Linked DNA regions of Homo sapiens: all the other regions are linked to region 4. A link means that fine-mapping ties the variant in region 4 to the expression of a gene that starts in the linked region. Tissue or cell type: whole blood. Region 4 holds a variant in brackets; each other region holds the start of a gene. Each region is shown on its reference strand, or each on the opposite one.

The links. PIP is the estimated chance that this variant, and not a neighbour inherited with it, causes the effect.
Region 1: ITGA5 starts here. The variant in region 4 is fine-mapped to the expression of ITGA5 in whole blood (TOPMed, PIP 0.97).
Region 2: it holds the start of SP110, and the variant in region 4 is the best candidate, but not a certain one, in a credible set for the expression of SP110 in whole blood (TOPMed, PIP 0.51).
Region 3: it holds the start of RIPK3, and the variant in region 4 is the best candidate, but not a certain one, in a credible set for the expression of RIPK3 in whole blood (TOPMed, PIP 0.63).
Region 5: RUBCNL starts here. The variant in region 4 is the best candidate, but not a certain one, in a credible set for the expression of RUBCNL in whole blood (TOPMed, PIP 0.52).
Region 6: PPP3R1 starts here. The variant in region 4 is the best candidate, but not a certain one, in a credible set for the expression of PPP3R1 in whole blood (TOPMed, PIP 0.72).
Region 7: it holds the start of RRAS, and the variant in region 4 is the best candidate, but not a certain one, in a credible set for the expression of RRAS in whole blood (TOPMed, PIP 0.63).

Annotation. Positions count from the first base shown.
Region 1 is chr12:54,417,441-54,421,553 of GRCh38, reverse strand. It overlaps ITGA5 (integrin subunit alpha 5), which reads left to right and starts at 2,288. Exons shown (of 30, transcript NM_002205.5): 1 at 2,288-2,573. The coding sequence starts at 2,356. The region is part of intron 2 of GPR84-AS1 (GPR84, ZNF385A, ITGA5 and GTSF1 antisense RNA 1); the gene reads right to left.
Region 2 is chr2:230,217,542-230,221,541 of GRCh38, reverse strand. It overlaps SP110 (SP110 nuclear body protein), which reads left to right and starts at 1,558. Exons shown (of 19, transcript NM_080424.4): 1 at 1,558-1,668. It also overlaps a transcript of SP140 not described here. RefSeq lists a silencer at 1,446-1,632 and an enhancer at 1,350-1,829.
Region 3 is chr14:24,337,952-24,341,951 of GRCh38, reverse strand. It overlaps RIPK3 (receptor interacting serine/threonine kinase 3), which reads left to right and starts at 1,961. Exons shown (of 10, transcript NM_006871.4): 1 at 1,961-2,145; 2 at 2,355-2,495; 3 at 2,628-2,937; 4 at 3,385-3,530; 5 at 3,657-3,703; 6 at 3,912-4,000. The coding sequence starts at 2,126. RefSeq lists enhancers at 2,006-2,075, 2,096-2,295, 2,526-2,595.
Region 4 is chr7:50,335,283-50,339,282 of GRCh38, reverse strand. The region is part of intron 3 of IKZF1 (IKAROS family zinc finger 1); the gene reads right to left. Among named protein-coding and RNA genes, the nearest start is that of IKZF1, 33 kb to the right of the region's middle. The variant T/C (reference allele first, on the strand shown) is at 2,402.
Region 5 is chr13:46,385,140-46,389,252 of GRCh38, reverse strand. It overlaps RUBCNL (rubicon like autophagy enhancer), which reads left to right and starts at 2,001. Exons shown (of 15, transcript NM_025113.5): 1 at 2,001-2,119. RefSeq lists enhancers at 1,225-1,334, 1,355-1,454, 1,485-1,764, 2,145-2,234.
Region 6 is chr2:68,250,503-68,254,615 of GRCh38, reverse strand. It overlaps PPP3R1 (protein phosphatase 3 regulatory subunit B, alpha), which reads left to right and starts at 2,084. Exons shown (of 6, transcript NM_000945.4): 1 at 2,084-2,491. The coding sequence starts at 2,489. It overlaps PPP3R1-AS1 (PPP3R1 and CNRIP1 antisense RNA 1), which reads right to left and starts at 3,013. Exons shown (of 2, transcript XR_001739527.2): 1 at 2,882-3,013. RefSeq lists an enhancer at 965-1,634 and silencers at 1,725-2,164, 2,425-2,474, 2,655-2,764.
Region 7 is chr19:49,638,159-49,642,271 of GRCh38, reverse strand. It overlaps RRAS (RAS related), which reads left to right and starts at 2,129. Exons shown (of 6, transcript NM_006270.5): 1 at 2,129-2,326. The coding sequence starts at 2,174. SCAF1 (SR-related CTD associated factor 1) reads right to left here and starts at 63. Exons shown (of 11, transcript NM_021228.3): 1 at 30-63. RefSeq lists silencers at 1-142, 2,003-2,392 and enhancers at 173-522, 633-732, 273-942, 943-1,612, 1,613-2,282.

The sequences.
Region 1 (4,113 bases), not on the chromosome of region 4:
AGAGGATCAGGCAAAGGCAGGCATGGTGAGAGGAAAGGCAGGAGGTGTTGGGGCCACTGGGAGAGGACTTATAAGGGCAGAAAGAGCCAAGAGAGGAGGGATATTGGGGAGAGTAGAAAGGCCAGCCAAAGAATGACTAAGGGGCTCCCGGTGTAAACAGGAGCAGGGAATGGACAGGGAGGGGGCCTGTTTGAGTTGGCCAAGGCTAGGGGTGGAGTGGGGAGGAGGACTGGGGCAGGACGCTATGTCCCCTGTCCCCCACCAAGGCTCCTGGGAGGAGCTGAGTCACACACCTCCTTCCCTGCACCCCTCCCCACCCCCACCCCTAATCTCCCAAATCCTGGGAAAATCTAAAGAGTTTGCCTAGACTGAGAAAGGAGAGTGTTTGGTTCACACACGTGTTTTGCTGGGCTAAAAAGCAATCAGGCCTCAGCCCTTCTCCTCCCAAAGGGGGTTCCCAGCCCATGGCTTGAGTAGCTCTCACCTAAAGGTTGCCTTTTTGGCAATGCTGGGCTTAAAGATCCTGACCCAGAGATTCCCTGGGTTCCTCACCTAAGAAAGGGTCAGGACTTGCAGATGTGAGAATGGGATACGGGCCAGCATTGCCCCACAGTCTGGCCAGCCAGCCTCTCCCTTGGGCTGCAGCTGGCTCTGGAGGGGGGCTTTTAAAAAAGCAGATGGGTGATTTGGGACAGGAAGTGGAGTAGCAGAGTGAGGGGGAGAGTCATGGCAGGAAAAAAACATTGACTCTGGGCACTCTTATTCTGAGCCTTTCAGCCCGAAGTGGGGCAGGGGACTGGAGAACAGAAGGGACAGGGTTGACAGGATATTATTGACAGGGTATTATTCTGGAAAGTGAGGAGTCCTGGAGGAAAGAGACTGAAAGGACTTGTAGTCCCCTCCCCCAGACTAAGATAAAGGCTAGAATCCTGAAAAGTGATCTCATCACACAGAGCCTGAGCTTGGGGAAGAGGTGGGCAGGGGGTCACTGCCTTCCCTTTCTAGAGTCCCTTCCTCTACTTCCACAGGGGAATCTGGGAAGAATGGGGTCCTGGCTTTCCGCTCCCATTGTTTTTTTGGTTTTTGGTTTTTGGATTTTTTTTTTTTTTTTTTTTTTGGATACAGTCTTGCTCTGTCACCCAGGCTAGAGTGCAGTGGTGCAATCGCGGCTCATTGCAGTCTCTGCCTCCTGGGTTCAAGTAATTATCCTGCCTCAGCTTCCCGAGTAGCTGGGATTACAGGTGCGGACCACCACATCTGGATAATTTTTGTATTTTTAGTGGAGATGGGTTTTGCCATGTTGGCCAGGCTGGTCTTGAACTCCTGGCCTCAGGTGATCTGCTCACCTCGGCATCCCAAAGTGCTGGGATTACAGGTGTGAGCCACCGTGCCTGGCCAGAGCTCCCAGCGTTTACAGCCATTAGGAGCTGAAGGTTGGGTCCCTTTGCAAGACTTTCCACCACCACCACCACCTCTCACAATTCTCCAGGTTTGTAGGAACCCGGCCAGTTTAATCAAGCAGGTACTGAGGGGCCAGCCACTCGCAGGCTTTTGGTCAACTGTCAGATCCAAGGAAGGGGCTCAGCAGAGGTTTACATACCCTAGGACCAAGAAGGGGGCAAACTGGAGCAGAATCCTCCTGATGAATGACCCCAAACTCCTGGGTTTTCAATACTAGCAAGCTTGGAGGAGGAAGCAGCGGAACTTGAGGAGCCCGTGTAGGTCCTCTAGCAAGCTGACTGCGAACGCTGTCTCTGTACCTCAACTGTTGTGTCCCAAATCCAGCTGGCCAGAACCCAGGCACCCGGCGGCCCCGGAAGGCAAGGGGGAATCCCAGTTGGCCGGACGCCAGAGGAGTCTCCTGTCTCTTTAGACCCCAAAGTCTCCTCCCTAAAGCACTGAGGGAGACCCCACACACATATACAGGCTTCCTCCGCCCACCAGAGGTGATTCCTTTCCTCATTAGGAAATTCTCCGCTCCCTTTTCCGACTCGTTTTCCGAGCGTTTACGTTGTACATCTGGAAAGGAATGGGGAGGAAGGAGGGGGAAGCAGAGAGGAGGGGGAAGAACCCAAACCCGCCCAGTCTAACCCAGTCCAGACAACCGGCTTCCAGCTGGGGCTGGGGAAAGGGGGTTGGAGGGGTGCGCCCCCCCCCCACGCCCCTTAGGGGTGGGGGACGCGGGCTCAGAGTTCCAGGGACCCAGGAATGCCCCCCCGCCAGCCCCCTCGGCAGGCGGGGGGAGGGCTCAGCCGGGAGTTTGGCAAACTCCTCCCCGCGTTGAGTCATTCGCCTCTGGGAGGTTTAGGAAGCGGCTCCGGGTCGGTGGCCCCAGGACAGGGAAGAGCGGGCGCTATGGGGAGCCGGACGCCAGAGTCCCCTCTCCACGCCGTGCAGCTGCGCTGGGGCCCCCGGCGCCGACCCCCGCTGCTGCCGCTGCTGTTGCTGCTGCTGCCGCCGCCACCCAGGGTCGGGGGCTTCAACTTAGACGCGGAGGCCCCAGCAGTACTCTCGGGGCCCCCGGGCTCCTTCTTCGGATTCTCAGTGGAGTTTTACCGGCCGGGAACAGACGGGTGAGTGAGGAGGGCTGGAGACGGGATGGGGGTGGGGGAGCCGCCTGGAGACTGGGGGCGCGGCTGGGGTCTGGAGGGGACCAGGGCTTAAGTTTGAGGGTGGAGTTTGTAAGGAATAGAGCTGCAGTTGGGGGCCCTGGCTAGAGTTGGGGGCCCGCGCTGGAGTAGGGAGGGCACCGTGGCGGGTGAGGAGGGGCCCTGGCGTTTGAGATCAGTGGGGAGACATGTGTCCGGTGGGGAGAGGACACGGAGCTGGAGAAGTCTGGGCAGGGGTCTCCGGGCCAAGGGAGAGGAGAGCGCGTGAATGGAGAGCTGAGGGTCTCTGGCTGAAGTCTGTGGGCTGCTGGGACCTGGGGCGGGTGGGGGCGCAGAGGGGGCGCAGAGGCCGGGAAGGGCTTTTGGGGGCTCCAGGAGACCTCGGGATCCGTAGGGGCCATTGTGCGGCGAGAGAACGGGTAGAAGCCGAATGAGCTACGTGTAGTAGGAGGAAAGTCAAAGACTGAGGGGGTCGGAAGGTTAAATGGGGGCCAGCCTCATCCTCCCCTCCCCCCTCAACTCAGACCGGGGAAAGACCCGAGAGAGGACGGCGGCTCCCTCTCCTTTCTCCTCTGTCTCCTACTCCTCCCTCCGCCCCCAATCTCTGTTCAGGCGAGGGGATCCGAGAACTGGGGGCGAGTGCGGGGACCCTGGCACTGGGGCCCTGGGGCTGGGGGCGAACTCAGCCAAGGGCGGGTGCTGGGATGTGTCGGGAGGGGTGTGTGCGCGCGTGAAGGGGGGTGGGCGGTTTCCCTCTTCCTCTGGCTCTTGGGAGGAAGAGAAAAGCTGGTTTCCTGTAGCTGGTCGGCTGGAGCTGTGCTGAGACCGGGACTTCTGGGGCTGGGGTCGGAAGCTGGGGAGACGGGGGCTCCGTGGGGCCAAGAACGTCAGAATGAAGGACTCAGGACCCTGGAAATCTCAAAGGAGGATCCTTATTCCCAACTCAGCACAGTGATAAGCAGACCCGGACCCCGAGTGCCTAGAAAATGGGGTACTGACAGGCTTGGGAAACAGGAGTTAGAGTGGAAGCAACATTAGAACCAAGGGTGTCTGTTTAAATGTGGGATGGCGGGGAGATTGGGAAGCAAGAGAGGTAGGTGGTTGCTCCTGGGCTAGGCCATAGATGCCAGATTCCTGGTCCTCCACAATGACTGGTGTAATCCTTTTTCTTCTACATCTCTGAGCTGGGAGCTTCCTACTGCTCACCCCCACCCCAACCCCAGGATCTCAGGGTTTGAGGGGAATTCTGTCAGAAGCGACCTGTTTTTACACATGAGACAGTTAACTGATCTCTACTCAGTCCCTATAGTTTTTGGAGAAAAGGGGTTAATCTAGCTAATACAACTGGGGAGAAAGGCAAATTCTCCTTTGTCTGGAGGACTTGGGGATGGGAGAAAAGAAAAATGATTAGGCCCCGACTGTTGTTCTGGGCTATTCAAGGTCCCCACCCAACCCCCACCCCACCCCCCTGGCCTTTTGCCCAAACCCCATTGCATCATCACCC
Region 2 (4,000 bases), not on the chromosome of region 4:
CACCCACAGCCATTACCCGCAAGGCCGGGTCTGCTATTCTGTACATACTAGGGTGGGATATGCTGTTTGTGCCTGCATAGAAGGGCTTGCTCTTATGCAGTTAGCCTTGGTTTCAAAGCTTCTTAAACTTTAGATCCATGTCTCCCATCTTTTATCTGAGGAGTTTGTGGATGTCCTGGTAGGGGAACTTGTGGGTCAAATACATTTGAGAATTATTGATTTAATCAAAGTTACATAGAATTCTTTTTTTTTTTTTTTTTCGAGATGGAGTCTTGCTCTGTCACCCAGGCTGGAGTGCAGTGGTGCGATCTCGGCTCACTGCAACCTCCACCTCCTGGGTTCAAGCAATTCTCCTGCCTCAGCCTCCCAAGTAGCTGGGATTACAGGTTCCCGCCACCACATCTGGCTAATTTTTGTATTTTTAGTAGAGATGGGGTTTCACCATGTTGGCCAGGATGGTCTCAAACTCCTGACCTTGTGATCCACCCATCTCAGCCTCCCAAAGTGCTGGGATTACAGGCGTGAGCCACCGAGCCTGGCCCAAAGTTACACAGATTTCTATAGTGCAGTGGTGCAATCATAGCTCACCGCAGCCTTGAACTCCTGGGCTCAAGCAAGTCTCCAGCCTCAGCCTCCTCACTAACTAGGACTACAAGGTGCATGCCACCACACTCAGTTAATTTTTTATTTTTTTATTTTTTGTAGAGATGGGGTCTCACTATGTTGCCCAGACTGGTCTCAAACTCCTAGGCTCAAGCAATCCTCCCATCTTGGCCTCCTAAAGTCCTGGGATTATAGGCATGAGCCACTGTGCCTGGCCAATAGTTTAGGATTTTTCATAGGCCCCACATGTCAATGTACATTAGGGATCTTTAAAAGGGGCATGAGAAGGGGTGTCCCTGCCAGCCCTTGAGTTACTGCTCTCTGGAATCAGCAGGTCCCAGTTCTGCCTCAGACTCCTGGCTCCCAACTACCTGCCCAGCTCTCAGCCATTTTTCTGCCTGGAGGTCTGCCTGCCTCTGCACAATTCCAGTTCATGTGCAGGTTCCCTTTCATTTCAATTTCTTCCTGTAATAATCTTATCCTGACAAGTTCTAGGCATTTCTGGCACATTCTCTTTGTTTTTTTGTGTGTTGTTAGAGTTTGATAACACACTGGATAAATTCCAGTGAATTCATTCAGTTATGTAAACATCACCACAATCCAGTTTGAGAACATTTTCATCAACCTAAAATGTACAGAATGAGGACAAGTCATGGGAAAATAGATGTGGTTAGGGAAGCATTTGGACGCTGAGTTCCCAGTTCCTATTGCCGCTGGGGCTGTACCCTTATGCCTCCTCCTCCCATACCTCCCTCTCTGGGCTGATCCCAACTGGCAACACGCCCTCCCCCAAACCCCAACTGCCAAGACGTCCTGGGAGCCTCACAAGTGCCCATGAGGAGGTGGAGAGAGGCTGCAGGCACCGACCTGCCTTCAGCTTCCGGCTTGGCAAACTCCGAAAACTTTCACTTTTCTTTTCTCGGAAGCCCGGCCCCTTACTGCGTTTGTCAAAGCACAGACTTCCTGTTTTGCCTGCTAGCATCTCCCTGTAACTCTCCCAATCTTGAGGAGTGATCCCTGTCCCAGCCCCTGGAAAGGGGCAGGAACGACAAACTCAAAGTCCAGGTGAGTTTCTGTCTTTGCTGCTTTATTCTTCGCTCTTGGTGACTGCAGCTCTTAGAGTTAACTTCGCGGCAGCAGCTGCAGGGTGGAGTTCAACTATTTAAACTCTGAGGCTCTCTCAGAGCTCAGACATGTGGTACTTATTAGGAGACTGTTAAAAGGGGGCACATGGAGGGAACACTGACACCTCTTTTTTTCGCCAGAGTCCAGCCTGTTATTGTGAATGGAGCCGAGATTTGCCCTCTACCCTCACCTAAGCTCTGATCCTTCAGTGCCCGCAATAGGCGGCTCATCTGTTATCCATTGTGTAAATGACTAGAGGTACTTGGGAAGCTGGTGGAAAAGAAAAAAATGAGAGTACATTTAATTTCGTCTCTAGTGTATCATGAACTTTTTATATATTTTCTCTAAATACATGATTATTTCCTTGAAATAAATTATTAGAAGTGGAAATTCAAAGGAGCACATGTTTTAGGACATTTGACACTGATTACTAAATCAGCCTTCAGAACATTTGGACCTGTTGACCTTCCCACTCACAGTGTCTGAGATTATTACTATTATTTTCTATCTTGGCCAATTTGATAGACAAATATGTTATCAAATTGTCTTCATTTACACTTTTTTTGGTTGTTTGTTGTTGTTGTTTTCTGAGACGGAGTCTCGCTCTGTCACCCAGGCTGGAGTGCAATGGCACCATCTCAGATCACTGCAACCTCCACCTCCCAGGTTCAAGCGATTCTCCTGCCTCAGCCTCCTGAGTAACTGGGACTACAGATGTGCACCACCACGCCCAGCTAATTTTTGTATTTTTAGTAGAGACAGGGTTTCACCATGTTGGCCAGGCTGGTCTCGAACTCCTGACCTCAGCTGATCCGCCCACCTCAACCTCCCAAAGTGCTGGGATTACAGGCATGAGCCACCATGCCTGGCCTTCTTTATGCTTTCTACTAGCTAGTTAACATGCTTATCGTATTATTCATTGCACATTTGGCTTATTCTTTTATCACTCTCTGTTCATGTATTTTGCTTTTTTATTTTCTAGTTGGATGTTTGTCTTTTGCTTATTCGTTTGCAAAATCTCTTTACATAATAAAAATCTGAACAGTCATATATGAGATGTAGTATCTTGCATAGAAAGAAACAGGGCTTTAGAGTCAGACAAGCTCTGCTTTGCCACTGAATACCTTGGGTGAGTTACTAAACCTCTCTGTGCCTCCCTTTCATCTTTGGGACTCATGACAGATGAAGAATGAGGAAGCTCTAGACTTCCTGTTCTGAGCGCTGCTGTATAATGAATTGTTCTAAAAGGAGCCTCCAAGACCCCTTCCTCTTCTTAGTATATGTTTACTCTGCCTTTCTCTGACTTTGCACTGATCTTTGCACTATCTCCTTCCCCTGTGCATATTGTGGATAGTAGATTTCTCTCCTATCTGTTCTCTATCTTCCAAGACTTCTTTACCACCACAGACTCTCAATGGCATCTTTTCTTGTTTTCCTATGCGATTGCGGATTATTCTTTTCATGAGTATTTTTTTCTGCCAAGTTAAAAAAATTGGGGAATGAGGAGAAAGAGACTAGGGTGCTTAATCTGCCACTGGGATTAAATCCCTGTAAACAGTTGTTAATTACGATTTACTTTTCTGTTCAACACAAAATGAAGTTGGAAAAGTGGAATCCATGTTTGTTCTGTTTGTTAAAAACTGTCAAGTTGATTGAATGTTTTGTTAGTGCTTTTCCTTTTCTTGACAATTTGTCAAGAATGTCATTTGTAAACTTTCTTCCCATTATAACCTATTGATATCTCCTCACAGTCCATAAATGGCCAATCTTTAATACATGCTGCATGGGCATGGGAAAAGGCGCATGTCTGAGACATGAAATGGTTGCAGTGAACAAGTCAGTTAAGTCACTTTTACTAAGTATGCCTTTCTCAGCCCTCATGCTTTTATTTATGCTTGGCCCATTTGTGTTGAAGATTGGGAGTGGTTCGTTAAAGTTTCCAAATATTACCAGGTTTCCAGCTGAACTCTACCCATTTTAGGGTGGTCCCTGTTGCATGAGCATTGCTAGTTAATGGCTTCAGCCGTAGCCCAGGTCATCTTGTTTAACCCAGATCAGTGTGGCCATAGAACACATAGTTAGCACTGTAAGCCTGGAATCAGGATTTGCTCCCAGCTCTTCCACTCTCTAGTTGTGCAACCCTGGGGCAAGTTATTAAACATTTCTGTGTCTCAGTTCCTCAACAGTATAAACAGGTGCAGTCATAGGAACCACCTCGCAAGGGTTTTATGAAAATCAGATAAGTTACTGCATATGAAACCCTTAGAACAAA
Region 3 (4,000 bases), not on the chromosome of region 4:
GGGACATCTGTGGTCAGAGGCATCAGTCCTCAGAAAAGACCAGAGCTCAGAATTCCAAGAATCAGCCTCTGCCTAGGTCCACCCCCATACCCCCTTGCTGGAAGCTGAGGGTCCTGTTAGGCACTTAGTCTAAGGTTCTTCTCCCTGCTCTTCCTTCTTTTAAAGAGGCTGTTTATTTTGAGTCAAAAAGTAGTATAGGCCCTGATACCACACCCAACTTTGTGCTTCACAGTGGTTTATCCCTCATTCTCAGGGTCTCGTCACAATCTGAAGAAACCCAGTTATAACACCTTTCCAAATCCTTTCTGCCTGTTCCCTTCAAGTGGAGATACTGAGCCTGGGTTATTCTCTCTAAAAAGAATCACAAAGGGAGTGGCTGCCCCTTTTGATGGCTCTCAGCTTCTGACTCTAGGCTTTTCTGAGGACCTGCTACACTTCTTGCCTTCTTGGATTCTGTGTGATACCACCATATCTCTATACTAAAGCCTACTTCAGATGGATTTCATGAACTGTGCAGGTGAGAGCCCTCAGTCCCTACAGGAACCCAATCACCTCTTTCCTCCTACTGAGTATGGAGCTCCATCTAGGATGATCAGTGCCTTAAGAAAGGCTCGATATTTTGGGTTGTTCATTTATTCATTCAATTCAACAAATATTTATTGGGTATCTGCCATGTATTGGCTTTTAAGGAGACTACGGTTGAACAATTCCCTAAATAGTTCCAAAATAGCATGAACTGACCCTGCTAGAAGCCATGGTGTGGCTCTCCAAGAGTTGTTTTAGAAAAAACTACAGATCACTTCTGCCTCAACCAGCAGAGCCCATGGACCACTGAACAAAATGGAAAGCAAGTACCAAGGTGAGCACCTTTAGTGAGAGCCAACGCACAACCCACAGGATTGAGTATCCCTGTGAAGGATTGAGTGCCTAGGGCAGGCCCTATCGGGTTCCCACAACCTCCAGTCATGGTCAGACCTCAGAAAGGTAAAATATGGACACCTTTTTTCTGCCCTAAATCTTTAAGACTCTCCATGCTTCTGGGTTATCAAAAGACTGTGTCCAGAGCATGTGCTTGTCAGGAACATTAATTAGGGTATTTGCATGCAAGAGTTGTCATGCAAGGGAGAGGGCAGGAAAGCTCTGAGGTGTTTCCACTGTAGTGTACACCACAATGTCACCAACCCTCTGGATGGGCTGATAAATCTAGCCTTACCACAATGCCCTGGGAGTGGGCTTGGGGCCTGCCACCTCCAGGAGCTCCTGTTCAAAGGGCATATAAGTCCCTATCAATGCCAAAGACTTGCCTCGCAAGAGCAGCTATAGGGACTGGGCAGGAATACAGATAGGGATCCTTCACTACATTGTTGGATGCTTCACACCTTTCCCAGCCACCTGCACGACCAGCTGAGTGGTACAGCCCTGAAGCCTATGTGAAAACAGGATAACTTGATGGTTCAGAGCCATTATTTCCATATGGGCTTAGGCAAGGTACTTAAACTCTCAGTGTCTCAGTTTCCTCACCTATAGAAAGGTAATAAAAGCAGTACCTATCCCCTTAGGGTTCGTGTGAGAATTAAATAAGCTAATATATATACCTGGTGCATGATAAGTTTTATATACGTGTTGGCTATGATCTTAGGGCAGCTGTGAGAGAGCTGAGCCCTAGAACCATAAAACCCTCCTAAGCACCATCTCCACTCATGGCCTGGCAGGTCGTGGAGCAGGAAATCCTGTGGGAAAAGGGAAGGCTTTGACTGTAGGAGTGGGTTGATTGTGGGTTCCTGGAAGGTGAGGACTCCTTCCCTAACATCCTCAATGCCCAGCAACACCTAATCTGGCTGCGGCAGGTGCTCAGGAAACGCTAGTCAAGGAGAAAGGCACTAGCTTTCGCTCTGCCCCCTGCCCCACCCCAGGGGCGGGACTGTAGAGGCGCCTATAAGGGAAGTTGTTCAGTCAACTCGGAAAAAGGGTAACAACCCGGAAAGTAGACTCACCGTCTTGGTCTAGAGACTGACCCCTGCACAGACAGACCCCTTCCCCTCTCTGCGAAAGGACCAAGCCCCAGAAGTCACTCCATCTCCTACGGCTCGCAATTTCCAGAGGCCCCCTGGCACCTTCCAGCCTGATGTCGTGCGTCAAGTTATGGTGAGTAGGGAGTGGCATGTCGATCGCAGCCTCCGACATTCACACCCAGAGAGCCCCACAGACTCGCTCAGAGAACGTCTTTGAGTCCGGGGACGGTGGGGGCCGGCGAGGGAGGCTGGGGATTGCAGTGAGAACGCCGAGTCACAGGGGCGCGGGGAGCAGCGCTGAGGCACGGCACGGCCGGCTAGTGGGCGACACCCCTCTCTCAGGCCCAGCGGTGCCCCCGCCCCCTTGGTGTCCATCGAGGAACTGGAGAACCAGGAGCTCGTCGGCAAAGGCGGGTTCGGCACAGTGTTCCGGGCGCAACATAGGAAGTGGGGCTACGATGTGGCGGTCAAGATCGTAAACTCGTGAGTGACCCCGGTTGACCCCAGCCGCAATCTGGCCAAAAAGGTGGAGCCACTGTGCTCTGGGGCCTGAATGGCGAAGGGAGGGATTTTCCCACGACCCCGGTGCGACTCCAGCTCTCTCCTGGAGTGTAGGAAGGCGATATCCAGGGAGGTCAAGGCCATGGCAAGTCTGGATAACGAATTCGTGCTGCGCCTAGAAGGGGTTATCGAGAAGGTGAACTGGGACCAAGATCCCAAGCCGGCTCTGGTGACTAAATTCATGGAGAACGGCTCCTTGTCGGGGCTGCTGCAGTCCCAGTGCCCTCGGCCCTGGCCGCTCCTTTGCCGCCTGCTGAAAGAAGTGGTGCTTGGGATGTTTTACCTGCACGACCAGAACCCGGTGCTCCTGCACCGGGACCTCAAGCCATCCAACGTCCTGCTGGACCCAGAGCTGCACGTCAAGGTCAGCTGGTCTACACCCCTCTCAGCCTCAAGACAAGGCCCCAGAGCTGCTCCAGCCAGGCCCGCCGGACACTAGACCTCCAGAGCCCTGTCTATTGAATAGGCGTAGCCTCTCTCTCTGGACACAGGGCTGCCAGGGGACAAAGCCCAGCCAGGAGTTTTAGCTCCTGCCTACCAGGTGATAGAGGCCCTGAGCCACACGAGTCATTTCCACCAGCTGCCCCACCAGCCCCTCCAAAGAGTCATGGCTGACCCAGCCCTGGAGACTCAGACCTTGACCTAGCCCTACCACAAGGCACCTAGATCTACCATCCAAGGGAACCTCTTCCCTTGACCTCCACACTCCCTTTACAAAGCTGAACCTGCACCTTCTGGGGGCAGGGGGGTTCCTGGAGGCTCTCTGGCCCCCTTGTCTTCCCTACCTCCCACTTCTTTCCTTCCTTTGCAGCTGGCAGATTTTGGCCTGTCCACATTTCAGGGAGGCTCACAGTCAGGGACAGGGTCCGGGGAGCCAGGGGGCACCCTGGGCTACTTGGCCCCAGAACTGTTTGTTAACGTAAACCGGAAGGCCTCCACAGCCAGTGACGTCTACAGGTAAGGATCCCGGCCCAAACACACAGCCAGGATTCCTACACTTCTCTGGGCCCTCCCAGGGGATGATGTATAGGAAAGGAGTCTTGCCAGTGATTGGACCGATCCTCAGCTTTGTGTCTCCTGCAGCTTCGGGATCCTAATGTGGGCAGTGCTTGCTGGAAGAGAAGTTGAGTGTAAGACTCTAGGAGGATTCTGGGATCCTTAACCCCAGGTGCCCTTCTCTTGAAAGCCCCAAGGCTTCCCCTTCCCGCTCACCTACTTAGACTGCCCTCCTCCCTCCTCGTGCCCCCACATTACACTCCCTGCCTCTTTCCATGATGAAGCAGATAATTCCCTTTTACCCTGAATGCCTTCTCTTCTCACCCTCCTCCCCTACTCCAGTGCCAACCGAACCATCACTCGTGTACGAAGCAGTGTGCAACAGGCAGAACCGGCCTTCATTGGCTGAGCTGCCCCAAGCCGGGCCTGAG
Region 4 (4,000 bases):
CCCTTTCCCAGCTCCTCCTCCACAACACACACACACACACACACACACACACACACACACACACACAACCCTACCCAAAAGAATTCCTCCTTTCAAATTTCACTGTCAAATTTCAGCTGTCAGGACATTAAAAGTGTATTTAAGCTAGTGGTGCACAGATAAACCAGCTCTCAAAAAGAAAAAGCCTTGATTTGCAGCGTTCACCGATTTCTGTGGTGTAAATACTCCCAACCACGGTAGACTTCAAGCTACCAAAAGTTTACCAACAACCTGGCAGATTTTCCGCATATTACCAGTTGGCTGATTCTAGGTGGCTCACTGCTCACCGGAGCATGCTTTCTGAGTTCCCTATAAGTTTCTGTTATCTCACTGATCCTAACAGGCAAAGAGTTTAAAATTGTGAGCGTGTCTGCGGTAATTTGTGAAATGTAGGTTCCTGTTAGGGCCTTGAAGAAAGCTGGGCTTATCTGGTGGGAGACAGTAGCCCAGGCCCAGCCCTGCCTTGCCAGCAAGAGAGGGCTTGGTAGGGCAGCTTCCTGGCATGGCCCACTCCCCCAGAGCAAGAGCTTTCATTTAGTCTAACGGGTTCTGTGGAAACTTTCCGGGGCAATGTTAAGGCTGTACTCTGTTTAAGCCTTTCTACTTTTGCATAAAAGGAGGGGAAGCTGTTTTTTCTGGGTTATATTTACACTTCCCAAATCAGAAAATGCCCTAACCAGATAGGGGGACAGGTGGCAACTGGCAACCACAGCTCAACCCCCCAGCCTTTTTTTCCCCATTTCTTTCTGAAACCCCATGTAGAAGGAAAGTTAACGAAATGTCAGTTGGTTGTTTTATACACAGAGCTAACTATTCTTTCAACACAGATGGAACAAGGCAGAAAATAAAACTGGGACCAAAAACCCGGCAACAGAAAATGTTATCTATCTACTCTGACAGCACTTTTAATCTAAGGATCTCTTTATTTTCTAGAAGTTGGTTCTATTTATTGAACGAATTAGGTTCAATGTGATCTTGAGTGTAAGGCATCAAAATAAAATGAAGATTAACATTGGTTTTTGTTTATAAAAATAAGCAACTTTCCATAGTTAATCTGCACCTTTGAAGACACATAGTCATCACTGCAAGCATGGTTGAAAATGCAAGGTTTGGCATTTTTCAACCTTTCTGGTCCAATTTCTCTATAGTTTTTTTTTAAAATTCACATGTCAGATTCTGGAACATTACTGGCTATATTAAAAAACCTTAACAAATCTGCCAAAGATTGCCCTTCTGAATTTTCAAAGCTCTTACGAGTGGGAAGTACTGAAGGAAGTGAGGACGAATGTGTCCGGGCTAACTGGTGGCTTTTCCAGCAGGGTCCTCACCTGAGAAATGTGGAGACATTTTGGGTATCACAATCACCATGGTACCACTTGTGATGTGGGTGGCTAAATATCCTGCAATGGGAGGGACAGTCTCACCCAAAGAAGTGCCCCCTACATCAAATATCATCGTGCCCACTGAGAAACAGTGACCTAAAATAAGATGATGAACATCAGATGCAGCCTCAAATTCTCTCCTCTCACTTTGAAAGTTCTCTCTACTGTCCTACATGCTCCATTTGCCCTCATCTTTGAGAAAGCAGTGCCACATTCCCATTCATTCATTCAATACCAATGTATCAGACAGCACCTACTCTAGGCTGGGGGATGCCCAGGTACTGGGGATCACGCAGGGAGCAAATCAGAGCTGAGTCCTTCATCTACGAGTGGTGACGTTGCTGCTATAAGGCAGGGCAAGGAGCAACAGTGCTGAGAACGCTATCTTAGGGCATGTGTCCAGGAAGACCTCTCTGTGTGGAGACCACTGCACAGAGCCCTGAGGGAAGGGAGAAGAGCGCCAAGAGGAAACCTAGGGGATAGTCCAGGCCCAGGCCCAGCTCATAGGTGACTCACGCCGGCCTACCCTGGGGCTGCTAGTTAGATTTTAATCCTTTCTATTCTGCTAGCTCCCACTTACTGGACTTCAATCACATTTAAACATTCTCCTAAAAAGACTACCCTGTAAATACCATCCCCTAGTCCTGTGACCCCCGACCCCAACCAGCTCCTTGTCTTCTTTCTTCCCTTGGTTCCTGATGCCTGACAGCCCACAGCTGCTGCCTCCTCTCCTGTGCCGCTCCCGGTCCCTCTCACATGGTTGGTTTTGCCCCAATCCTACCGAGCCGCTTGTGGGAAACCCACCGCCAACCCCCAGACACCTCTTTCTAGGGCATTATCCTGTCCCCAGCAACTCCTCTCGCCATGTTTCTTTCTAGAAATTTTACCCGAATCACACAACTCACTCTGTCTCCTTCTTTGCTCCTCTCTTAGACAATTAAAGGCATTTACTCCCCAGGGCCCCTGTGGTCCTGCTGTTT[T/C]GTTGGCTGTCCCTCCTGAGCTGATAGTGTCCCACAGATGGAACTTGCCCTATGACTTACATCCCTACCTTCCAGACTGTTCCGTGGCTAGACACCATCCCTTGGTCTCATGCGAACCCCTACTCTGGGTACAGTTCCCATTGCATTCAGCAGAATCACTGTGGCCCCAGTCACCGAAGTGGACAATGCAGCCAACGGATGGAACCGCCTCAAAGGGGCAAACACCACGGGGCTGCTGAGATGCCCTTCTCTGCCCTCTGAGACGCCCCTCCCTGCCTTTCTTCCCCTCCTGCACCAAAGGCCTCCTGGCCTCTCGCCACCGCCTGTCCCAAGGGCGAGCTATCTGACAGGCCCCCTGAAGGGCTATTCCCAGGTCAGCAGGTTTGAGGGTTCCCTTTCCAGCACCACACCCTTTATTCCTCAGCCTCAGAGCGAGTGCGGGCCTCCTGTGCCTCTGAGCCTGCAACCCGCCCCACTCCTGCCACCTCCACCCCTTCCTAAAGAAGGGGACAGCCGAGATGTGACCCATGGTCCCCACGCACGCCCCTTCACCAGCACATGCGTGCCTGTGGCAAAATGACTCATCCCCTCCCTCTGCACCCTCCCCCTGCACCCTCCCCCTGCCCCCGCCGGGGCCAGGCAGGGCTCCTCCTCCCCCAGTGCTTCCAGCTGTGGCAACCACATGGCGTTTGCCAACTGAGTCTTCTCCGGGGACCCAGCCTGGCCACGGGCTGCACCCTGTGTTTTATCACTGAGGAACTGTAAGCTTTTTGTAGGGGTCAGTGTGTCAATGCTTCTCCCTAAAGCCACCTGCTTAACAGGAATGTCAGACATGGAGCAGGCCAAAATGCAGATGATGATGATATCAGTGCAGCTGCTCTGGACAGCCCTCTATGCTGTGCCCTGCTGGGTCAGGCTTCACAGACATGACAGCCAGGATCGGGTGAGGGGGCGCCCTCACCTCACAATGAAGGAACAGCAGAGCCACCTGCCAGGGCCAACAGCTAGGAATCAATAGAGCCAGGCCTACCTACCCACATGGCCTGCTCCCAGGCACAGCAAACACCCCAGTGGCTCAGCTGCCACATGCATGTGCACACATACACCACAGACACACCACACATCCCATACACACATACACACCACACATCCCATAAACATATACACAGCACACATCCCATAAACATATACACACCACATACCACGCTTCCCATACACACATACACACCATACATCCCATACACACCACACATCCCATACACATATAACACACATACACACTACACATCCCATACACATACAACACACATACACACCACACACCACACATCCCATACACACATACACACTATGCACCACACACCACACATCCCATACACACATACACACCACACATACACACTACACATCCCATACACACATACACACCACACACACACCACACATCCCATACACACATACACACCACACATACACACCACACATCCCATACACACATACACACCACACACCACACATCCCACACACACATACACAACACACCTCCCATACACACATACACACCACATACCACACATCCCATACACATACACAACACAT
Region 5 (4,113 bases), not on the chromosome of region 4:
AGCTCTGTGACCTTGGGCAAGTTATTTGAACCTAAGTCATAGATTTCCCCCTTGCGAAATGGGAACAAATGATTTGTTATTCTCAGGGATGTTCACAGACTTGCTTAAAATAATAAGAAAAAGTACCTGGCACATAGCCGATACTCAAAAAATGTTAGCACACACCCACACCTTTTTCTTTCTGATTCATTTAAGGTAAGCCCTTCCCAATCGGCCTTCAGCTGACCTGAATTCCTGGGATACTGTATTTGGAATTTTAAATATTCCAAATATCCAGAGTTCTTGCAGGTCAAAGCTGGTCTATGCTCCAAACAGGCTGCCCCCAAGGGAAGCAGGGTAATTGGCAGCTAGTATTCATCTGACTTTTGTCATATTGATTCAATATTTTATCTGAAGATGGCAGCAACTAGTACATGGTGCCACCGTTTAGCCACTCCATGCCAGAGGTACCAGGCAAGTAAAAGCCAAATTACCAGTGCCTCTGCTCCATCCTGGAAATGACAAAGGACAAAGCCAAGGAACCCAGGAAAGTGCAACGGGATTTGGTTTTATGCAGCAGGGAATCTTCTAAGAAAGCCAGGACCGGTTCACCTACGTGTCATTACCAGTGCAGGCAGCTCAGAGGTCCTTCCCCGGGAGAAGTCAGGGCACCGCGAGAGAGAGCTTAGCTTCCTTCCTTCCTCCATCCCTCCCTCCCTTCCTTCTGGGACTTAGGTTCCTTCCTTCCTTCCTTCCTTTCTACTTTTCTTTCCTTCCTTCCTTCCTTGGCTTTGGTTCCTTCCTTCCTTCTACCTTCCTTCCTTCCTTCTTTCCTTCCTTCCTGGGCTTAGGTTCCTTCCTTCCTTGGCTTAGATTCCTTCCTTCCTTCGCCCTTCCTTCCTTCCTTTCTTTGCTTTCCTTCCTTCCTTCCTTCCTTGGCTTAGGTTCCTTCCTTCCTTCCTTCCTTCTTCCCTCCCTCCCTCCCTTGGGTTCCTTCCTGCCTGCCTGCCTGCCTTCCTCCCTCCCTCCCTCCTTCCCTTCTTCTCCTTTCTGTTTTTTTTTTTTTTTTTTTTTGACAGTCTTGCTCTGTCGCCCAGGCTGGAGTGCAATGGCGCGATCTCGGCTTACTGCAACCTCCGCCTCCCGGGTTGCTCCTGCTTCAGCCTCCCTAGTAGCCGGCATAACAGGCACCCGCCACCACGCTCGGCTAATTTTTATATTTTTAGTAGAGACAGGCTTTCACCATGTTGGCCAGGCTGGTCTCGAACTCCTAACCTCAAGTGATCCATCCGACTTGGCCTCCCAAAGTAGGTGCTGGGATCACAGGCTTGAACCACCGCACCCGGCCAGAGCTTAGGTTTCTATTCGTGACAACTTTCTGTATTGGTTGGCAGGTTCTCCTAGCACCACCATGATCTCAGGACTAACCACTGCACACCCGTGATGGGATTCCAAACCTTCGCTGCAAGAGGACAAGGTGACGAGTTGCTGACAGTGAAGGCTAAACTAACGCGGACAGTGAAGTGCTACATGAGTCGGACTCAGACTCCAGGTGAAGCAGCCAGCAGAGGTCAGAGAGAGACAGCTCACGTTCCGGGTAAGTTGCAGGTCGATTTCAGGGCCGACTCATCCAGATTACTCATTCTTCATTTCAGGCAATTGTATGACTGCTAAATACTGCTGCTGGGGGCATCTGGGGTTGGGAAGTCATTTCTGCCAGGTCTTTGACCCCTGAAAGCGTCGTTGCGTCTCGCGCCGCGGGTAGGCAGGGCGGGATTTCTAGGAGGACCGGCAGAGGCGCGCATAGGTGCGTGGTGCTGGGCCCGGGCGCCGCGGCACCGGTGTAGGAGCGCGCATCTCCAGAGTTTCTTCCATCTGGGCGACGTCTCGGTGCCTGCGGCGGGAACGGCGCTTTGCTTCCCTGAGGAGCTTCTAGAGAGCTACGGTGGCCCCCGTGTGGGAGGCGGGGGGCGTGGCGGCGTCGGGGCGTCGCTGTCCCCTCCTCGGTAGCTCTCCTCCCTCCCCTTTCTGCTGTTACCGGGAGCGCGGTGGCCACGGAACGCTGCCCGGAGCCGCGCGAGGGAGGACCCGACGCGCGGCGTTTACCCAGCGCAGCGTTCCACCGCTCGGGTTTGGCTGGGTGAGGCTGGCGGGGCCGGGGGCGAGATGGGAGCGGCGCGGGGTGGAGAGGGTGGTTGGAGAAAGGGAAGGGAGGGCCGCGGGAGAGGTTGGATGGTGGAAGTGGCGCCAGAGAGGTTTGTGCCCAGCAGAGACACCCAGGTATCTTAGGGTCGCTCAGAGCAGTGTCGGGGACCCCTTGGAGACAGTAGGAAGGGGCTCCTCGCGGGGTGGCGGATTTCTATCCGGTTGACTTTGTAGAGTGAGGTTGACCCTGTGTTCGGCTTGGGCCGGGAAGGGCGCAGAAGCGGGACCTCAGGACACTTTTACGCAGGGCGATTCTCAGAGACTACAAAGCCTGCGCCCTGCGTCCTCCCAGGCGCAGTGTTCTGGGATCAGTGTCTTTTCTCTGTTTTCGTCCTCAACACAGCCAAAGTCGTGGATATGTGGTGACAGAAAAACATTTGGCTACATAACTGAGCTAGGCTGGAGTGTGAAATCGCGGCGTGTTATTTGGTCCGGGCGCCCTACATAGCAACCCCCACTCTTCTCGCCCCCAACCCCCCGCCACGCCGGACACGGTCAGGCGGGCGTTCCCCCAACCCGCCCCTTGTGAAGTCCACCTGCTGAGACTGATACAGATCCCCTGCGAACTTGATGCTGTCCGCTTGGAAAACGTGGAGAACTTTCAGAGGAGGGGTTATTTCGCCTTGAGTGAAAATTAAGACTCAAAGGAAAAGGTATACTCAAGAGCTGCCCTTACTGGGTTATTTCTGTGGAATTTGGAAGGATCTTTGAATTGAAGATGTGGTGGGAGCGCGCAGAGAACAGAGAATCCGTAAGCTTGAGTTTCTTAGACCCAGTTTCTTAAAGCCAAAGTAGCGGGGAGATCTTGGCAAGTCAAGAAACCTTCTTGAACTTCAGTTCCCTTGCCTCAGGGGGAGAATACTCCAGCCATACCCCACTGTGTGGTTTAGAAGGTTAATGGCCTGGAGGGAGGGAAGTGTTTTGAAGCCTATAAAGTATCCTGTGAAGGTATCACCACATTGCTGCCCACTGAAACACTGCCGGCCGCCGACAGAACTTTGTTTGGAGCCGAGTTAAGACAGCATCTTTATGGCAGTGCTGGGGTTTTCGTGATTACCGGTCCAGAGTGTCAGGACACCTCTGTTTCTCAAACCCCAGTTTCTGCACTGCCACATGAAACTGCTCATTACTGAGTGACAGCAGAGGACAGGAACTTTGCCTTCTTCATTAACTTCTTTAGGGCCTTTACAAAGTGGGAGATGGTAGGAACTTTGATGAAAATTGAGGGTCATAGCCTTGGAGCGGGGTGAGGGGTTAGATTTGACTGGACATAGTCTTCATGCAACCGTTTAACAACAAAAACATTGTTGGCTGAGTTCTTGTTTTTTGATACAAGGAACATTCTGTCGGAGCCAAGGTTAAACATCCAAGAGTAAACGTTTGTTGGTTTTTTTTTTTTTTTGCATGATCTTTAGAGGATAAGTAAAAAACTAAAGAAAGGCTGCATTGCTTGCTGACACATTTTTTCCCCACCCATCTGAAGGCACACAAATAATAGCACTGGCAAATTTGAATAGTTTCCCTTGTTACCAAATCTACGTTCTTATTTCTAATATGGAACGATTATTTCTAGTATGGAGAGAAATATGGAATTTCTAATATGGAAGATTTAGCATGGTGTGTCATTGTAAAAATTTAGGCAGTTCTTGGATAAGTATGTCCAGCCTTCCAGAGACTATAAGTGTAGTAATATTAGTGCCTGTTAGTCATATTGTGTATCTTCCTGATACCCAATTAGATCTCTGATTGTTTTTTCTTTTTAATTAAAAGGAGCTGAAAGATGACTCAGTTAAGAAGCTGGAAAATAAAACCAGGTCTCTGTAACTGTGCTGTCTTATTCTGAACTGAAAGTCTTTCTGCAATAATAATGATGGTGATAATAAAGCTAACCTTCATAGGACATTGTGTACCAGACTGATACACGTGCTA
Region 6 (4,113 bases), not on the chromosome of region 4:
CTTTAGCAGGGCTATTTGGTACATACATTTTTAAAAACACATATGCTTCTGCAGGACTGTTTGGTACCTGTTCCCACTCACACTAAGCTTTACATCAAAATTTAATGGAAAGAGACAAAAAGGAGAATGACTACTTACCATACTTTTCCCCTCAGCCTTTTGATGAAAAACCTATTAAAGGTGCATTTTGGATTTACTTATCTTACTGAATTCAGACTAGTATAAATTGCCTCCAACACAACAAAATTATGGGTTATTTTAAATCCACTGTATTCCAAATAGCTCGAATTCCTTCTTAGTGCATACCCCTTAGTTAAAATAATTTGATTTTCACTGAAAATGTCCAAGGGACACAAACAAATGCAGTTAGCATGATTACCTCTGGTAAGTGGAGAGAGGAAGAATTTTGCATACAGTACTTTTTCTTAAAAAGCACGTCTTTTTATGATAAAAAACTAATTTTAAATAGTATACCTAGAAAACGTTACACATATACCCTAGGGACTTTTTCTTGTTCTGTAATATGTTAGTATCAAATAGCAACATATTTAAATCAAGAAACTTGTGGAAGAAAGTGTCCCTTCTTGGCCTTTCCTTGATACATTCACTGTGTGACACAGCTTGTTATGTCTAAGTTCTTTTCCTTATTCATCCTGACACAGAAGCAAAGTAGCTCCTGAAGGGGGAAGGGGAGGGATGGAGGGGCGGGGAGGGGGGGATTGACAGAGAGAGAAAGACAGAGAGAAAGAGAGACAGGAACCATTTAGTCCTAGGGCAAATCGCTGAGCGTTTATTAGAAAAAAATGCATGCTCATCATATGGAAAAATAATTAGCACATAAAAAGAATAAAGTTCTCATGTAAGGATCATTAAGACTTTTTTAAAAAAAAACAACACAATGGCTTTTTATAAAATGACTCAAAGGCTTTATCAATAAGGAGTTTCCGATCACTCAGAAAACATCCTCTCTCTCTCTCTCACACACACACACACACACACACACACTCTCAAACACACACGAGTGCGGGCGATTATCAAGGCTTGTAAAGGAATAACTGGTTAAAATAGTTGCAAAATGTTTTCTTCGTTATCCTCATCACACCTCTCCTGACAGCTTTATTTCTTCTCTCGAACATAAATTTCCTCCTTATGCTTTTCTGGATGTAATTTCCTATTGTAATCTGAATTTTCTGGGAAGATAATTGCCACAGGAGTGGATATAGCTCTACTAAAAGGATAAGCGGGCAATCTACATTCGAGTTTTTTTCTTTTTTTAAACAAAAACTGATGGACTCCGCCAAAGGGGAGTCTGGACGGTTTATGGGAATGCAGAGCTGGGTGGAAAGTCTTTCTGCGAGTGGGAAGTATCCCTTCTCCTCGTTTGCCCAGGTTCTCCCCACGCCTCGGGCTGCGGCCAGCTTTGGCTCGCTTCTCTGTCTTTGCAACCTGGTTCCTGACTCTGCCAATTCATATTACAGATGGGCCTGCGGGTGCTGCACCGGGGTGACAGCAGTCCTGATGGGCCGTGCAATTCTGTAGTGGATCCAAGTCGGTACACGGATGCACAGATACCTTTGACTGCCTCTCGCAGGACTTGGATTTTTCCTGTTTTTTGGTGCGGCATCCGGGTGGTTCTGACACCCTAAGACTGCTCCTCTGCTCCTCCTCTCCCGCAAGGCTTCCACTCCAGGGCCCCTGTCCCCCTTTCGCTAGCACTCGCGCACCCCTCGCGCTTCCTCCCGCCGGGGAACCCTCGCATTTCCTCCTTCCCCTCCCAGCCTTGCCTTCTTCCCCGCCCGCCTCCAGCCACATGACCGGAAGGGCTCCGCCACGCGACGTCACCGACGTCCGCGCCCCCGCCCCTGGCCTCCCCCCACCCTGCACGCAAGGGGCGGCCGGCTGAGGGGCGAACGTGGTCCGCGCGCTCAGCGTTCCCCAACCAGAGCTCGCCAGAGCGCCGCGGCACTCGCCGCCCAGCGGGGCGCGCAGGTTCCCGGATGTGCGGCGCTCGCGGAAGCCCCGCCCCCGCCCCGCGCGCTGCAGCACTCCGCTTTCCCCTCCCTCTCCGCCCTCCCCTTTTTTCGTGCCTTGAGGTTGCGGGTCAGCGCGAGCCGCTGCAGTGAGTCCGTCACGGCTCCGGCGCGAGCGCGAGGCTGCAGCCCCCGAGTTTCCCGGCCGTCTTCGCCCCCTCTCCCCCTCCTTTCTTCTTCTCTGCCTCTCCTGCCTCTCGCCGCTGCTCCTCCCGCGCTCTCCGGCTCTGAATCTCGACCTTAATTTATTTCCCCCTACCCTGCCCGCTCCCTCGCGTGCCCAATCGCCCGGCCGGCGCGGGCCCCGCGGCGCCGCCTCCCCTCCCCCACGCGCGCCCCCTCCCCGCCGGCGACCCGAGGGCCGCAGCTGGGCCGCCGCCGCCGTTTCCTGCGAGCCAGCCTGAGCGCAACACTTCTCCGAGCCAGCGAGCCAGCGAGCCGCCGACCCGCCGAGCAAAATGGTGAGACCTTGGCTTCCTCGATGCACCATCCCTCCCCCTACTGCCGCCGTCCGGGTCGGGTGCGGGGGCGAGCCCCGACGCCCCCGGTCGGCTGTCCCCCGTGGAAAATTCCAGAGACCCGGGCCCGGCGGGTCCCGCGGCGGTTGCGGGCGAGCCGGAGAGGGCGGCGGGGCGGCTGCTGACAGGACGGCGGCGGGGCCCCCGCGCCCGCCCCCGGCCTCTGCGGGGCGCCCCTCTGCTGCTCGGCCGCCGCCCCGCCGTCGCCCCACCCCCGCGCCGCCGGTCCCGCCCGGCATCGACCCCCGCGGGCACCGCTGACCATCAGCCCGGCGCACTCTCCTTCTCGCGACCCTCCTCCACGTGGAGCACCCCCCTCCCCTCCACACTCACTCTGTTTTTCGAGTTCGAGGGTATTCTGAAATCCTTTGGAAATAACAATATGTGGCAAATGGCACTTTACATAAGACCCACTTACTCTCCAGAGCTGCTGCTGCTTCCACTCACTGCCTGTTTCCCAGCAGTGAGTCTTGGCAGGGAACCCTGCCACTCACTTCCCCTCTCCTGCGAGCGTCGGTTTAGCTGCGGTGCGCAGCCCTGCGGGGTTTCCGTTCGCTGCTGCTTTGCTCGCTGCCCTGGCGAACCGGAAAGATCCAAGGTGTTTGTTCACGAAAACATACGCGAACTTGGTTTGGGAGAAATGGGGGCGCTTAATTTTTCATGCTTCCGTTACTACCAAGGGTTTTTTCATTTTCTTTGGTACCTTCTTGTGTCTCTCTCTTGGAGTGGTTGTTTTTGAATCATGGCGATTTTAATTTGTCTTTCCTTACCCTCACATTAATCCCTAGGTAGAATTCGCTGCTGTAGTGTTTCAGACCGACGCTAGGGGTGTGTCTCCCGCCTCTGTCGCTGCAGCCAAGAAATCAACGACGCCCTTTTAGCCTGTTACCTTACCGGTTCTCTCGCTCGGGGAAGCCCTAGTCGTTAGTTTCCTCTTTGTAATCAAGAGTTGTATACACAGTAGAGAAAGTTCAGAGTGCTATTCCGCGTATATCAGATACTCCATCATGCGATTCAGTTATTAGGCTTTCTCTAAAAGTCTTTGAACAGTTGTCAGAAGACTTAAACTGGTTGACGGTGGGTAATTTCTCGCATCTTTTCCACTGTATGGTATCCCACCCTGTATGTAGAATTTAAGTGCTTCAGTGTACGTGGTGGATTACTGAAGGGAGGAATGCTGTTGCTTACAACTTAAAATCGATTTGGTGAAATCGATTTTAAGGGAAGAACGTGAAATTAGAATATTCAGGTAAGTCAGCTTTTATTTAAAATATAGGGCAAATGAGTAAGTGCTTACTGGTGCACTTAAAACCCAGATTAAGAGCAGACTTAAATGATTGCCGATTTTGATGTGTAGAGAAAGTTTTTCCTTGCCAACTTGCGAGGCAGCTCAGAGAGGCAACTTTGGCACCTGAAAGTCACAAAACAATTTAGGAAGATCATAGCCATTCATCATATAATCTTTTTGTTGGCATAGTCTTTTGAAGTGAAGAATTGCATTTCAGTGCTTTAATAGAATTTCCTTATGCACATGCTTTACTTGAAGGTCAGGATCTTGAAGATCT
Region 7 (4,113 bases), not on the chromosome of region 4:
CGCGGCCCGGACTGCCGCCGCCATCTTACCCCGCCGCTCGGGCTGCGGCTCCGGCCCCGGCGCGGGGCGGGGCGGGCTGGGGCGGGGTTCGTGAGCAAAGGAGGAGAGAGGCGGAGCTAAAGCGCCGCCGAGCTTGCCGGGATTTCAAGTACCGAGCACGGCGACGTGAAGGCCGGCGGGAAGGCAACCGCACTCGGTTTCCCAGAAGCCAATGGGACACATGGGGCGGGGTCCGCGCGATGCACGCCGGGAGGCGTAGTCCGCGCACCGCCTCTGTCGCGCGGGGACAGCTAATGGGGTGAGAGGTGAAGTGGGCGGGGCCGCGGTAGCCCGCGATGACGCCCCACAGTGCCCTGCGCGCGCGCGGAAAGGGTGGCGGAACAGGAGGTGACGTAAGAGGCGCCAGGCAGAACAGACGCAAGGGAATTGTAGTCCGGCGGAGTGAGCACGACTTGCTGGATGTTGTGCTGCCCACATTCTGGGGCTCTCAGAATCCAGATCCTCTAGGCCCCCCTAAATTTAGAACCAGACGGGATGCAGTGGCGCACACCGTAGTCCCACTCGGGAGACTGAGGCGGAAGGATGGCTTGAGCCTAGAAGTTAGAAGCCAGCCTAGGCAATATAGGGAGACCCCGCCTCTAAAAAAATAAAAATAGGCCAGGCGCGGTGGCTCACGTCTGTAATCCCAGCACTTTGGGAGGCCGAAGCAGGCGGATCATCTGATATCAGGAGTTCAAGACCAGCCTGACCAACATGGTGAAACCCAGTCTCTACTAAAAATACAAAAATTAGCCTGGCGTGGTGGCTAACGCCTGTAATCCCAGCTACTCGGGAGGCTGAGGTAGGAGAATCGCTTGAACCCGGGAAGCGGAGGTTGCAGTGGGCCAAGATCGCGCCATTGCACTCCAGCATGGGCTACAAGACGGAAACTCCGTCTCAAAAATAAACAAATAAAAATAAACTTAGAACCTAGAAGCCCGACCCCATAGCCGCCTCGTTCAGTACAGAGAAGTCTGAATTCCGAATCCTCTCACTCAGAGCAGTGTCCAGACTCCTATTTCCCTCCTCCCTCCGACTCAGGAGTCTGATTCTTCCTTCCTCGGATCCAAGAGTCGGTCTCCCAGACTAGTCCTGGTCTCAAGCTCTCACATACGAATTCGGGTCCCCCCAAGCCAGTGCCCTCGCTCGGATCCAGAATCCTGGGTCCCCAGCCTCTCCAATTCCTGGACCTAAGAGTCCAGGCCCCCGGCTCCCTCCTTTACCGAACCTAGTACGAAGGAACCTGTCTACCTTCCTCCCTGACACCCTCCTCCCCAGGACCCAGGAGTCCACATCTCCAGCCCCATTTTCTCCTAAGGACCCAGGAGTCTGGGCCCTCTGCTTCCTTCTCCTTCAAGACCCAGAAATCCTGGCCCCAGGCTCTTCATGACCCAGGCATCCCTACTTGGGCGAGCTGGCTCATGGATTAGGAATGCAGTGATCTCACGGCCCCTCCCTGCCCCGTTACCCTGCTGTCCCCCTCTAGGGCCCCACTCTCCTCCCAGTCTGTCTTCCGCTTGGCTGGGACAGCGGGAACCGGAAGCCTGGGTCCCTTAGCGGGCGGAGACTCTAGCTTCTAACCCAGACGCCGGGGTCGAAAGCTTGGCTAGGATCCCAGGAGGGAGGTGGAGCTACTCCTCAAAACCTGCTGCTTCCTCGGAGCGCCCTATATACGGCCGCGCGCGCGAGTCGACGAGCTCCGCCTACCATACTAAGGCCTCGGAGACGATGCCCCAAGCAGCAGTGTCACAGGGGTCCTTATTTGCATAGCCCCTCCCCTGAGGAACTTTCCGCCCCGTCTGCTGAAAGAATAAATTCTTATTAGCATAGCCACGCCCACAGACCGCCCTCCCGCTGAGAGCGCGTGGCGCCGCTCAGGGCAAAGCACAGGTCTCTCATTAGCATAGCCCCGCCTCATTCGGAATTCCCCTTCGCAGCGAACGCCGTTCCCTTTCCCTTATTAACATAGCTCCTCCCTTTCTTTGGCCCGTCCCCCTCCTTAAGTGTCCGGAGACGCGAGCCCTCCTTGCCAGAGCTCATGATTATGCAGTAGCCTCATTAGCGTAGCCCGCCCCCCCGGGTCCCGCCCGGCTCCCCCGCAGGCGGTAGCGAAGGCAGCAGCAGCGGTGGCGACATGAGCAGCGGGGCGGCGTCCGGGACAGGGCGGGGGCGGCCCCGGGGCGGGGGACCTGGGCCCGGGGACCCCCCGCCCAGCGAGACACACAAGCTGGTGGTCGTGGGCGGCGGCGGCGTGGGCAAGAGCGCGCTGACCATCCAGTTCATCCAGGTAGTGGGCCCTCACCCGGGAGGGTGTCCCCCGGGACCCAGAACTGAGCCCTTGGGGGGATCCCCGAGACCCCTTTTCCCCCTTGACCCATCACTGAGACCCTCCTATAAGGCCCTCTAATCTTAAAAGATCCCCACAGATTGTAACCTAAACTCTTGGAGAGCCTCCATCCCCTGCACGGGGGACCCTTCCTTCTGCACTCGCATCCCGAGACCCACTATTCCCTCTCCCAGTGCCTAAGACCCCGCTTACCTGCTGACCTGGCTTTGAGCACCTCCTGGGAGCATGCTAAATACAAAATACTCACCCCATTCGGACCCTAAGCACTCCCAGGACCCCCACCACGCCCTTGGTGCCACCTTCCACCACCCTGAGCCCTATCTCCCCCAAATCCCAGTCCCCAACTTCCCCTCTAAGCCATTGAGAGCCTTCCTGGGAGAATGCCAGTGCCCAGCACCTTTGAGATTCCACCACGTTCGATTCTTTTTTTTCTTTTTTTTTTTTTTTGAGACAGAGTCTCACTCACTCTGTCACCCAGGCTGGAGTGCGGTGGAGTGCAGTGGTGCGATGTTGGCTCACTGCAACCTCTGCCTCCTGGATTCAAGCAATTCTCCTGCCTCAGCCTCCCAAGTAGCTGAGACTACAGGCGAGTGCCACCATGCCTGGCTAATTTTTGTATTTTTTAGTAGAGACGGGGTTTCACCATATTGGACTGGTCTCGAACTCCTGACCTCGTGATCGGCCTGCCTTGGACTCCCAAAGTGCTGGGATTACAGGCATGAGCCACCGTGCCCGGCCCCACGTTTGATTCTTAGCCCCTTCCATGACTGCCCCCAGAATCTAGAAATTCTACCCAGACCCTGGCCCTGAGACTCTTCTGGGACTACCCAGTCCTAAGAGAGTCCTGCTCTCCGACCCGAGATTTAAAAAGACATCCTGCCCCTTGGCCATTCCAGAAATCTCCAAGACCCCAAGTCCTGACAATCCCCCATTCCCGGAGGCCCAAACCTCCACTCTCCCACCCCACCCCCAAGGAAAACCAGCCCCTCCTCCATCCCATGCTTTCTCCGCTGCAACTCCCTGAGCCCCTCTCAGAAACCCTGAATAGCTCTCAAATCATCTCCATGGAAGAAGCCCCCAGATTCTTGGCACCCCCAGAAAGATCTATTCCTTGGGAGTTTCTCTGACCCCATAAATGAACTCAATGTTTCTAAGACTGTATATACTATAACCTCCCAAAACCCCTGAGCCACCTCCGGGCTGGCTCCCAGTTCTCAGCCCTGAGCTTCTCACGCTGTGCTCTGAGGTCACGCCCCTAACTACCCCCAGAGCCACAATCCCTCCCAGGGCTTGATCCTTACAGCCTCCCTCCAGGACAAGCCCCTCACCAAGCACCCCTCTAACCGACAGATGCAGCCTTCAGACCCCTAGCCTCCACATCACCCCCTTTCCTGAAATTCCACCCCAGCCCAGGAAACCTCCTCCCCATTCCTGAGGGAGGTCCTCCCAGCTTCAAAGAAATCCTAGAAAAGTGTCTTGGCCTGACATGCTACCGCAGAGGCCCCGGGGCCCCAGGACACCCCCCTCACCCCCACCAAGAGACCCCTTCAAGGGCCTGGGAGGAAGCCCTGCTTGTGTAGAGAAAGGCCCCAGCCCTGGGCCCCTTGCACCCAGAGGCAGTCCCAGAGCTGGCCAAAGGCTTGGCTGGCAGCGGGCAGGACCCAGGCAGGAAGGGAGGGGCTGGGGCCCGAGGGTGGGGCAGCCTCTCCGCAGCCGGATTGGAACCG